Linked DNA regions of Homo sapiens: region 2 is reported to be linked to region 1. Evidence: microRNA targets listed by miRTarBase, many of them from high-throughput screens and not tested one by one. Region 1 holds a microRNA gene; the other region holds the end of a gene's coding sequence.

Region 1 (5,072 bases):
CGGTCCAACAAGGTTGGACAGTGCCTTGTGCCCTCTACCCAGATGCCGTTACAGGACAGTCACAATGCATATTAGCATAGGATAGGCTGTGAAAAGTTCTGCAAAGACTCACGCGGCTTAATATTCTATAATCCACAGCAAATTTAGTGGAATCAACATTCTTCAGAATTAATGATCCAAGGACATCAAGGAGATCAGCTCTTGGCCTCGATCCCTTGAACTTGAGCTCAATTCTTTTTTCTCCCCCTTGAACTTGAGCTCAATTCTTTTTTCTCCCCCTTGAACTTGAGCTCAATTCTTTTTTCTCCCCGTCCCAGGCTTCTCTCACCATCACATCAAGAGCCCGAGGCAGTTGGCCCTTCCGGACCCAGGAGTGCACAGCACCCAGTTCCCGCCGCTGGTCCTCAGAAAACCGAGGCTGCTGCTTCTGCATGGCTCGGAGCCGCTCCCGATCCTGCTTCAGCACAGAGGTCATGTCCCTGCCCAAGAAGGGGTTCAGAAGGCAGAGGCTGGGATCCAGGACCCGGACCAGGACCCATGAAGCTGGCATCCTTCCTCTACCACAGCTTCCCACCTCATGCTCCTCCCCTAAACTAGTGCTATGCGAGGTCAAGGCTTCCAAGACCAGGAAACCTGCTCTCCTCCTGGGAGGAACTAGTAACAGGGCTCCAAGGAGCAGGAAGAAAGATAGAAACGTTTATCCTATCCAGGGCAGAGCCAGCCCCAGAAAAGAAAACTGCCCCCACTACTACCTCTGAAAGGAAGGCCAAGAAGGCCTCTGAAATGCCTCACCTGGAGGGCACCTGGTAGGTCATCATGACGCGCTGGTCAGCATTGGCCATGAGCAGCCAAATGGGATCCTGGAGCACGTACTTAATCACCTGGTCCCCAGGCTCAGCCCCGCCCCGAGCAGCCCCAGCCTCAGCCTCGGAAGAGTCGATGCTGCCAAAGTATTTGCTTGTGTGGCTGCTCTGGCTGCTGCCTGTGAAGTGGGGGGCAGACCAATGGGAGTCAGGCCGGCTGCATGCCCACTCCTGGGACCTCACAAGGCCTCCCTCAAAGGCCACATGTCCATCCCAGTGGCCTTAGGAAGCTCCGCCAAGACGGGGCCTGGGCTCCCGGCTCCCCAATCACTGCCCTACCCTGGGAGATGCTGGAGGCGGGGTACTCACGAGTGATGCTGGCTGAGGTGCTGCCCCCTTCATGGGAGCCTGAACCAGACCCAGAGCCCAAGCCAGAGCCCAAGGAGCCCGAGGCTGCGGAGCCTGTGCCGGAGCGCGAGTCCTCTTGCAGCAGAAGTTCGAGCAGGTCACTGGAGCCGGAAAGTGCGTCCTGATTGGAGGACTCAGTGACCTCCGCCTGGAGGAGGGGAGGGGGGCAAGGAGGGATGGAGGGGTCAGCACCTAGGCCTCCCTTCAACTGCTCTTACTGGTTGTGGGGAGAGGCACATCCAACCCCAGTGGTCTCTGCTCCCCACTTCGTGACAGTAGGGCCAGGCTGAGAGAGAAGAAAGCTGGCGAAGAGTGGGGATGTGAGGCCAGACCCTTTCCAAGTGACAGATGCTCTCTCAGAAGTTATTGAGATGTCCTCACCACCTGTCAGACAGACAGGACTGTCCCTTCAAAGAGGAGGTAGCCAATTTCTGCCTCATTCAGAAATTCAGCTGGGGACTCCCTCCACCTCCTGGAGGCTGAGACGCCAGCCTGGCAGAGACAGCAGGCAGCACAGGGTGGCAGAGGGGCGGGGCTGGGGTGGGGGCTGGCAGGCAGACGCAGGGGTCAGTGCTCACCAGTCTGGCCTCTGGCTCAGCAGCCTCCGCACTGGGAGGTGGGGGCCCGGCACTGCTCCCAGGGCCTCCTGCAACAGCAGCCCCCTCAGCACGGGGGAGCTCCTCCAGCTGCAGCAGATTGAGCTGGAGTGGAGAGCTGCATCTCGAGTTGAACAGTGGAGAGTCCGGGCGGTGAGGAGGACTCGGGGCGAGGGCGGGCAAGGATGGAGAAGGGGAGTGCGAGGCAGGAGTGGGAGGCCCTTCAGCAGGGGTCTGGAGTGCCCCATAAGGATAGCTGGATGGGGTTGGGAACAGATAGTTAGGGAGCACCAAGGCCACCATTGGGGTCACCAAAGGGGCGGGGAAAGCAGCTGGGGGCACAGATGTGGGAGCAGGGGGAAGAGGCTGGGGGCCTCCTCGAGGAGAGAACACTGGGAGAGGGTAGGGCTGGACAACCGCTGGGAAGGGGGTAGTGGCTGGTGGGGTGGGCCAGGGGGTGGAGGGTGGCACGGGTGAGGGGTGTGAGACATAGCAGGGCGCTTCAGCCCGAGGGTTCTGGTGGTGGCGTGAGCGCTTGGCTTTGGATCGGCAGTGGTGTCGGCGGCTTGGGGGTGCGGGGCCGTGGTGGCAGCCTGTGGGGAGAGACTAGGGTTAGCAAGGACCTCAACCTGGGGTTAGTACCCCTGCTACCCACACTGCCCTGACACGCTGACCAGGGAGAGGACAGGCCAAGGTCCCAGAGAGAGCTTCTCAACCCACACAGAACGGGGGACTCAGGAGGTGGGGCACCTTCAGGGAAGAATCACAGGAGCCAGGGACAAGGGGATTTATTGAGAAAGGAACAAGGCCAGGGAGAGGTTACACGAGGGGTCGAGCTGGGGGTGTGCGGAAGATGGAGGCATGCTGGCAGATGGAGGAAGCAGGGTGAGTCCATGGACACATGGACAGATGGCTCTGGTCCGCCAAACTCCTGTGGGCACTGCCAGCCTAGGCATTCCTCCTGCCCATCGAGGCCGTATTCTGCCTAGCTTGCAATGGAGTGAAGAGTGGGGCTGGAAAGCCCAGTCCTGAGTCCTGCGTCTGCCTGCAGGGGATCTCCCTCAGGCACCTGGAGGGGCTGCCTTCCACCTGCCCTTGAAGCCCAGACCCCACCCAGAGTTGGCCCAGAATCTATGCATGTCTCTTCATCAGTGACAACTGACTCCTAAGTGGGCATACTTCCTGCCCCTGCCCCCAGGCTAGGCCTGAAGTCGCTTACCTGGAGACAGCACCTCTGCCTGCCCATCCCAGTGCCATCCCCCCAGGCTGCCCTCCTCTGGCTGCAGCCCGGAACCCCATCCTAGTGGGGAGAAGCTAGCGAGGGGCCTGTCCCTAGGCAGGGCCTAGTGGTGGAAGCAACACCAGCCTGGGTCCCTGGAGCAGAAACACCTCCCTTAAGACCCACCCCCCAACAATCCAGTCCTAGACTGGGCAGAGGGCAGGCTCCAGGAGGCCCCAGGTGGCTACCTCGCTCGCCAAGGGCTGAGGGAGCTGTGGAAGAGCTGTCGAGTCCACGCAGCCTGCCCAGGTCTCGGAAGCGGCTGAGGAAGGCTTGCTCTTCCTTCTGTGTGTGCAGGGACAGCACGGCCTTGGTCAGCCCCACTGGACGGTAGGCGTCTGGGGCTGGGTCAGGGGCTACTGTGGGGCTGGGGGCTGGGCTGGGGGCTGGGCCTGGGGCTAGGCCAGGCAGGTCCTCCATCATGATGATGTCTGAGGAGAGTGAGATAGGGAAAGGTCATCAGAACCACTTCAGGGGTCAACACATCCATACCACACCCTCCCTGTCTGATAGCCTAGCCAACCCCTGGCAGCTCTGCCCCACAGCCAAGCCTGGTCTCCATGTACGTTTCTTGGTCACCTCTCTGCCAACGGCTGGCCCTGGGTCCTCCTCTCCATGCAAAGCTGGCCCAGAAGAAGAGACGATACTCAGGCCCCTCCAGTGGCCACTCCCTGCCAGGAACTCTACTGGGATGACCCCGTCACAACTCTCATTGGAAGAGAAGCCCACCCCTTGGCCTTCCCTCACACATTTTCTTGTTTCTTTTTTTTTTTTTTTTTGACATGGAGTCTCACTCTTTCTCCCAAGCTGGAGTGCAGTGGTGCGATCTCAGCTCACTGCAACCACCACCCCCTGGGTTCAAGCGATTCTCCTGTCCCAGCCTCCCGAGTAGCTGGGACTACAGGCGCGCGCCACCACGCCCGGCTAATTTTTGCATTTTTAGTAGATACAGGGTTTCACCATGTTGCCCAGGCTGATCTCGAGCTCCTGATCTCAGGTGATCCTCCTACCTCAGCCTCCCAAAATGCTGGGATTACAGGCCTGAGCCACCATGCCCAGCCCCTCATGATTTTCAAGGTCAATATCCAAAGACCCTTCAGGGATGTTCAATTTTCCTTGCCTTCAGACCCTGTGTGGTCAGCACCTCAGGGCAAACCCTCTATCCCAGACTCTGTGTTTCAACTGACAGTAACAATACGAGAAGCAGAACAGGGGAAGGGCAAAGCCGAGAAGCCTGGCAGGGAGGGGAGAGCAAGAAGCAGTAGCCCCAAGCCCCAGGTCAAGGGAGGCCTCCTTCTCTCCATCAGGCCCTAGAGGGGAGGGGAAAGGCAGGAGGGAGCTCTAGCTGGGAGACCGGTGGAGCCCAAGCACTGCCCCCCAATTCCACACCCATACCCGACTCCGGGGGCTTCTTGTCTCCCACATGGACGATGGTGGAGCTGAAGCTACACTGACTGGTGACGGACACCACACTCTCCGCCTTATTGGCCAGGGCGAGCGGGCTCAGGGTGCCTCCCACCACTGGCTCCTTCCGTGGGGTGGCCCCCTCCCCAGACAGCGCTGCTGACGGCGGATCTGTGCAGAGAGATGGTGCCAGTTACCATCCCCACCCCCACTGGGAAGTCAGGAGAGAGGATCCCAGGGAAAAGGGGAAGGGGATGGTGGTAGGGAACAGAGGGAACAGTCTGGAGACCAGGAGGCTGGGGAGGAGAGCAGGGCAGAGCAAGAGGGCCCAGAAGCAGAAGGGAAAAGACACAGGGCCACCAGGCCAGGACGGGGCAGTGGGAGCAGGGTGCATTGGATCTTTACCTTTCTTGGTCCCCACAGAGACTGGACCTGTCCTCTGCCTGTCGTCGTCAGAGGCTGAGGAGGTGGTATAGGAGGAGGAGGAGGCACATTTACGCTTAGTGGTGCTGGGGAGGTTGCAGCTCTCCAGGTACCTGGGGATGGACACAGCACAGGGCATCAGAGCAGGGCTTGGGGTGG
Region 2 (5,072 bases), not on the chromosome of region 1:
AGACTGTGGTGAGCTATGATGGTACCACTGCACTCTAGCCTGGGTGACACAATGAGACCCTGTCTCAAACAAAACAAAACAAAACAAAAATCAGCATTTATAACAAAACAAGGAGAAAATATGGGTTACAGAGCTCTTGAAATAAAACTGCAATCTTAAAAGAATGAGCTCAAGGTCAATTTAATAGATGAAATATTTCATTAGTCAAGCTTATGAGAATGTAATCAGAAATGGAAGGCTACATGAAAGTGCGTGTTGCAGAGGAAATACGCGAAACCAAAACACACTTTTCTTAATGGTATTTTTGCCACTTTGGATGTTGATCTTATTGCTAAATCTTAACTTCTCCAGTGGCAGCAGAAATGACAGATGCGTAGTTTTCACGCTCTTCATAGACACAATGAGCTAATTTTTTCTTCTTTGCAGTCAGAGTCTGCTTCTCTGTCCTATAAGCAGGAAATGGAATCCCCTAGAACTATCATAAACCGACACTAGAGGTTTAGATACAGCAGAAAATGTACAGCAGCAAACTATTTTTCTATCTGCAAATGACAGAATTTGGAATATTTCTACAAGGTGCAAATTACCCTTTATAGGTTCTGATTTATATTTCATGATAAGGAAGGTGTCCTTAAAACAGGTAGTTGAACATTTTTGCTTTGTCAGCTAAATTTTTCCAGCTCTTACCAAAACTGAAAAGATCTGAGGTTGCTTCTAATAATGTTATACTTTTGGAAAACCAAGTAGCAGTCACTAAATGAAAAATTCATTCATTAAGGTGTATTTTTTTTGCTTTAATCATGGTATTTAATTACCACATAGAAGAACTATACAATCTCATGCTAAGAAAAGCAAGCATTTTCCATCCCTGTTTAAAAAAGAGTGCCAAAAATGTCCACAGAGGTGACTCCTGCATAGGGGAAAGGAGGATTAGATGAGGGACTGACAAACTATAGCCTGCCAGGGAAATCCTGCTCACTGCCTGCTTTTGTACAGCACTGGAGCTTACAATTACATTTTGAAATGTTTTCGGGAAAAAAACTGAAGATTATTTTGTGACATGTCAAAATCATGCGAAATTTGAATTTCAGTGCATATAAAGAAGGTTTTGGCCAGGCGTGGTGGCTCATGCCTATAATCCCAGCACTTTGGGAGGCGGAGGGGGCGATTCACGAGGTCAGGAGATGGAGACCATCCTAGCTAACGCGGTGAAACCCCGTCTCTACTAAAAATACAAAAAATTAGCCGGGCGTGGTGGCGGGTGCCTGTGGTCCCAGCTACTCAGGAGGCTGAGTGAGGCAGGAGAATGAGGAGAATGGCGTGAACCCGGGAGGCGGAGCTTGCAGTGAGCCGAGATCGCACCACTGCACTCCAGCCTGGACGACAGAGTGAGACTCCATCTCAAAAAAAAAAAAAAAAAAAAAAAAAAGGTCTTATGAGCATACAGACTTGCTCATTTGTTTATGTGTATCTATGTATGGCTGCTTTTGTGCTGCTACTGCAGAGGTGAATGGCTGCTAGATACCATATGGCTGGCAAAACCTAAAATATTTACTCTCAGGATCTTTTTTTCTTATTTTTTTGGAGACAGGTTTTCACTCTGTCACCCAGGCTGGAATGTAGTAGTGAAATCATAGCTCACTGCTGCCTCCAACTCCTGAGCTTGCAAGTGAACCTCATGCCTCAACCTCCCAAATCACTGATACTACCAAGTACGCCACCACGCCCAGCTAATTTTTATTTATTTTTTCTTTTTTTGTAGAGATGGGGTCTCGCTATGTTGCCCAGGCTTGACTGGAACTCCTGGTCTCCAGCGATCTTCCCGCCTTGGCCTCCCAAATTGCTGCCATCACAGGGGTGAGCCACTGAGCCCAGCCAGACTCTGGATTTTTACTGAAAAAAAAAGCTTGCCAATCTTTAGGCTGGGTGACATCTGAGATCCCTTTAAATTCCAAAGTTCTAGGAATTCCACTTCCAGAGGTAAGCAGGAATCCACCATCAAAGACAATACAGGGAACACCCATTAGCCTCATAATATAATGATTCCAAAAGAACTGTTTCTTTTGTGTTGTCAACATGTCAACCTGTAAAATAATACTCACTGACTCAGAACATTCACGTAAGTTTCCCAGATATTACTTTGAAAAATAGGCTCTTGGTTCTAGAAAGCAACATTCATAATTTTTAGAAATTTTATTCTATTAACAGGGTTGACTAGACCATCTGAAAAATTACCAAGTACAATGAAAATGAAAAAAGAAACCCAACTCCGCTAGGAATTCACATCATAAAATATTTATTAATAAGTAAAATGATTTTCCCCTGCCTTTGGTTATTAAAAAATGAGTATCATTGATGATACCAATTGCCAACACTGGTTTTACATTATTCAGTCATGAAACAGAATAGAAAGATGATCGATAGATATCTATAGACATAAATGTGTAGAAGACCATACCATACAGCGATTTGTTTAATTACAAAATACTGGTTGTGCTAGCAGTTGGAAATGTACTTGCACATCCTTAAAGTTATCTTTTTTTATATAAGTAAAGAACACACAAATAAATTCACTTGAATTTGATAATTTGGAACATTGGCAATGAATACAGTGCCTGTTGAGGCCTGAAAGAGAGAGGAAATCAAGAACAGTGTGGGAGAAGAAAGGCAATCCTTCGTTGAAAAGCTTTTCTCTTAACAATCCTTAGTGCCTGAAAAATAAGCCATTTTGATAACAAGAGTATAAAAAGCCTTATGATCTGCAAAGTAAATCGTATCTGGTTTAAATTTCATCCCAAGTCTCAGGTTATGGCTGAGGAGCTATACTAAGTATCTTTGTAACACATTTCTTTGAATTTTTATAACTAAGACAAGAAAATTTTTTTATCAGATCTAGGCAGAAATACTGATCTTCATTTACAAGTATAGTAATTACTTGCACTCAGGACTATATAGACATGGGGCTCTGAAAACCAAACAGAAGGAAACGCCAAACCATAACCACAAGGCAAAATTAAAAGTAACTCAGAGAAGCAGCGGGTGATAGTTTATGATTTCAATATAAAAAAGAATGCATTACCTCTCAGATGTCACCTTAAAGCCAGAAAATTAAGATACAATCAAGAAGGGGATGAATGGTTTTATGACTATACCACCTACTACTTCAAGATTAAAATCATCCCAGAGTTCTGAAATGTCTTCATTAGTTAAGTAACTATACAATTTATTTCAGTCTCTTTTTAATGTAGAAAATCACTTTGTAATAAGATCTCTACATAAGGTAAAAAAGCACAAAATAGGCCCCCAAAAGCACAAAAATAGACAAAATATATATATCTTTTTACAATGAAATTAAGGTGTGCCTGTGGAATACTGAGACTGATGACTGATCTCACAGAGTTCAAACAGGTTTCCTTTTAGAATAGTCCTGTTATTTGCGTCTTCCCCTTAACCTTGGATGCATTAGAAAAAAAAAAAGGCTCAGGCTGGGGGCGGTGGCTCACGCCTGTAATCCCAGCACTTTGGGAGGCTGAGACAGGCAGATTGCTTGAGGTCAGGAGAGTGAGACCAGCCCAGCCAACATGGTGAAACCCCATCTCTACAAAAAATACAAAAAATTAGCCATGGGGGCAGGCACCTGTAATCCCAGCCACGTGGGAGGCTGAGGCAGGAGTGTTGCCTGAATCCAGGAGGCTGAAGTTGCAGTGAGCCGAGATCGCACCACTGCACTCCAGCCTGGGCAACAGAGCAAGACCCTGTCTGATTAAAAAAAAAAAAAAAAAAAAAAAAAGTCCCAGGTAAAAGGGAGATAACAGGCATTTTGATCCTGTGCAGTCAACAACAAAAAAGAAATAATAATAACAACATAATAAAAATCCTTAATTTATCAGTTTATAAAATTCTTTCGTCAACCATATCTCAAGGGCACTTCGGACTCAAGCATTTGTTATACACCCATCAGCAACATCACAGTCATCTCCAGCTGAGGCCGGTTTTCCATCATAAATCAATGATACCCTGGATGAAACATATCCAGAAATGCTAATTCGGAGATGTTTTCATACAGTCTGGGGGCAAATGAAGCCATCCAAAGGAATCGTGCCATAAATACCACCGACATGTGCGGACTTCCACCTCGAGAATCCACCCCTGCCTTCGTCTCCCTTCAGTAAAGGAACCCACCAGTGACTCTCGGTTATACAGTCACCGCTGGGTACATCTTCTGTTCACTGTTGGTGTGAGGGAAGGGGGACTGAATCTGCCTGTAGCCAGGCTGCAGGCCGTCCATGAAAGGTGGCACAGCTGTCATGGGCACAGAGTCGTGCTGCACCGTGTACCCCACGTATGGGGGATGCAGATACTGCCCTTGATGTGGCACAATCTGGGTGGCCTGCTGACAGTTCAGCACAGAGAAATTCGTGGGCATGTTGACATACACGTTGTTCATGGTCCCTTCCGGCAAGCAACAGTTGGTCTGTGACCTTGTTGGGGGCGCCCGGGCCCCTGAGTTGGCGCTGGAGCTGGAACTGGCAGCTGTGCTGGACTGGCGTGAGGACGACCCCCGGGAGGTGCTGGCACTGGGGATCATGGGGATGGTCTCCATCAAGCGGTTACCCCCTGGGGCTCGGCTCTGCTGGGGATCCTGCTTAGGCCGGAGACATCTGCAGCAACAGGCTGCCACCAGGGACCCCAAGATGATAAAGGCGACAAACACGGAGCCAACAATGAGGAACGGCACGTAGATGGGCACTGAAGCAAAGGACAGAAACACAACATTATGATCTACTCTAGGAACACAGTACCAATCGCCAACTGGCAATGGCAATGAATGAATGAGCAACACTGATACCCACAGCTGAAGGACCTACACTGGGCTAATTTGTTCACATATTAGGAGTCCATAAGATGCACCATTCTTTATCAAGTGCTTAGAAAGGTCCTAAGACCCTACAGGCATGGCAGGTCAGCCCCTAGAAGCAAACTGTTAATATTTAGTTCAACTTGTCAACTGCAAGACTGACTGAGCCAGATATCCGATTTAGCAAAAGTATGGGTTTAACAGGTTAAGACAG

The links. The annotated mature microRNA hsa-miR-6883-5p reads AGGGAGGGUGUGGUAUGGAUGU and lies in region 1 at 3,569-3,590, opposite strand. An mRNA with a match to its seed (bases 2 to 7 or 8) in the 3' UTR can be bound and repressed. Matches are read on the target gene's strand: a 7mer-m8 pairs with bases 2 to 8, a 7mer-A1 pairs with bases 2 to 7 and ends in A, and an 8mer does both.
Region 2: miRTarBase lists SHISA2 as a target of hsa-miR-6883-5p. Seed matches in the 3' UTR shown: 7mer-A1 at 3,655-3,661 and 7mer-A1 at 3,523-3,529.

What each region holds. Positions count from the first base shown.
Region 1 is chr17:8,141,477-8,146,548 of GRCh38, forward strand. MIR6883 (microRNA 6883) reads right to left here and starts at 3,595; the gene lies at 3,518-3,595. PER1 (period circadian regulator 1) reads right to left here. Exons shown (of 23, transcript NM_002616.3): 16 at 4,896-5,026; 17 at 4,482-4,661; 18 at 3,275-3,517; 19 at 1,790-2,400; 20 at 1,173-1,359; 21 at 793-982; 22 at 329-479.
Region 2 is chr13:26,042,318-26,047,389 of GRCh38, forward strand. SHISA2 (shisa family member 2) reads right to left here. Exons shown (of 2, transcript NM_001007538.2): 2 at 2,280-4,749. The coding sequence ends at 4,196. Among named protein-coding and RNA genes, the nearest start is that of SHISA2, 7.2 kb to the right of the region's middle.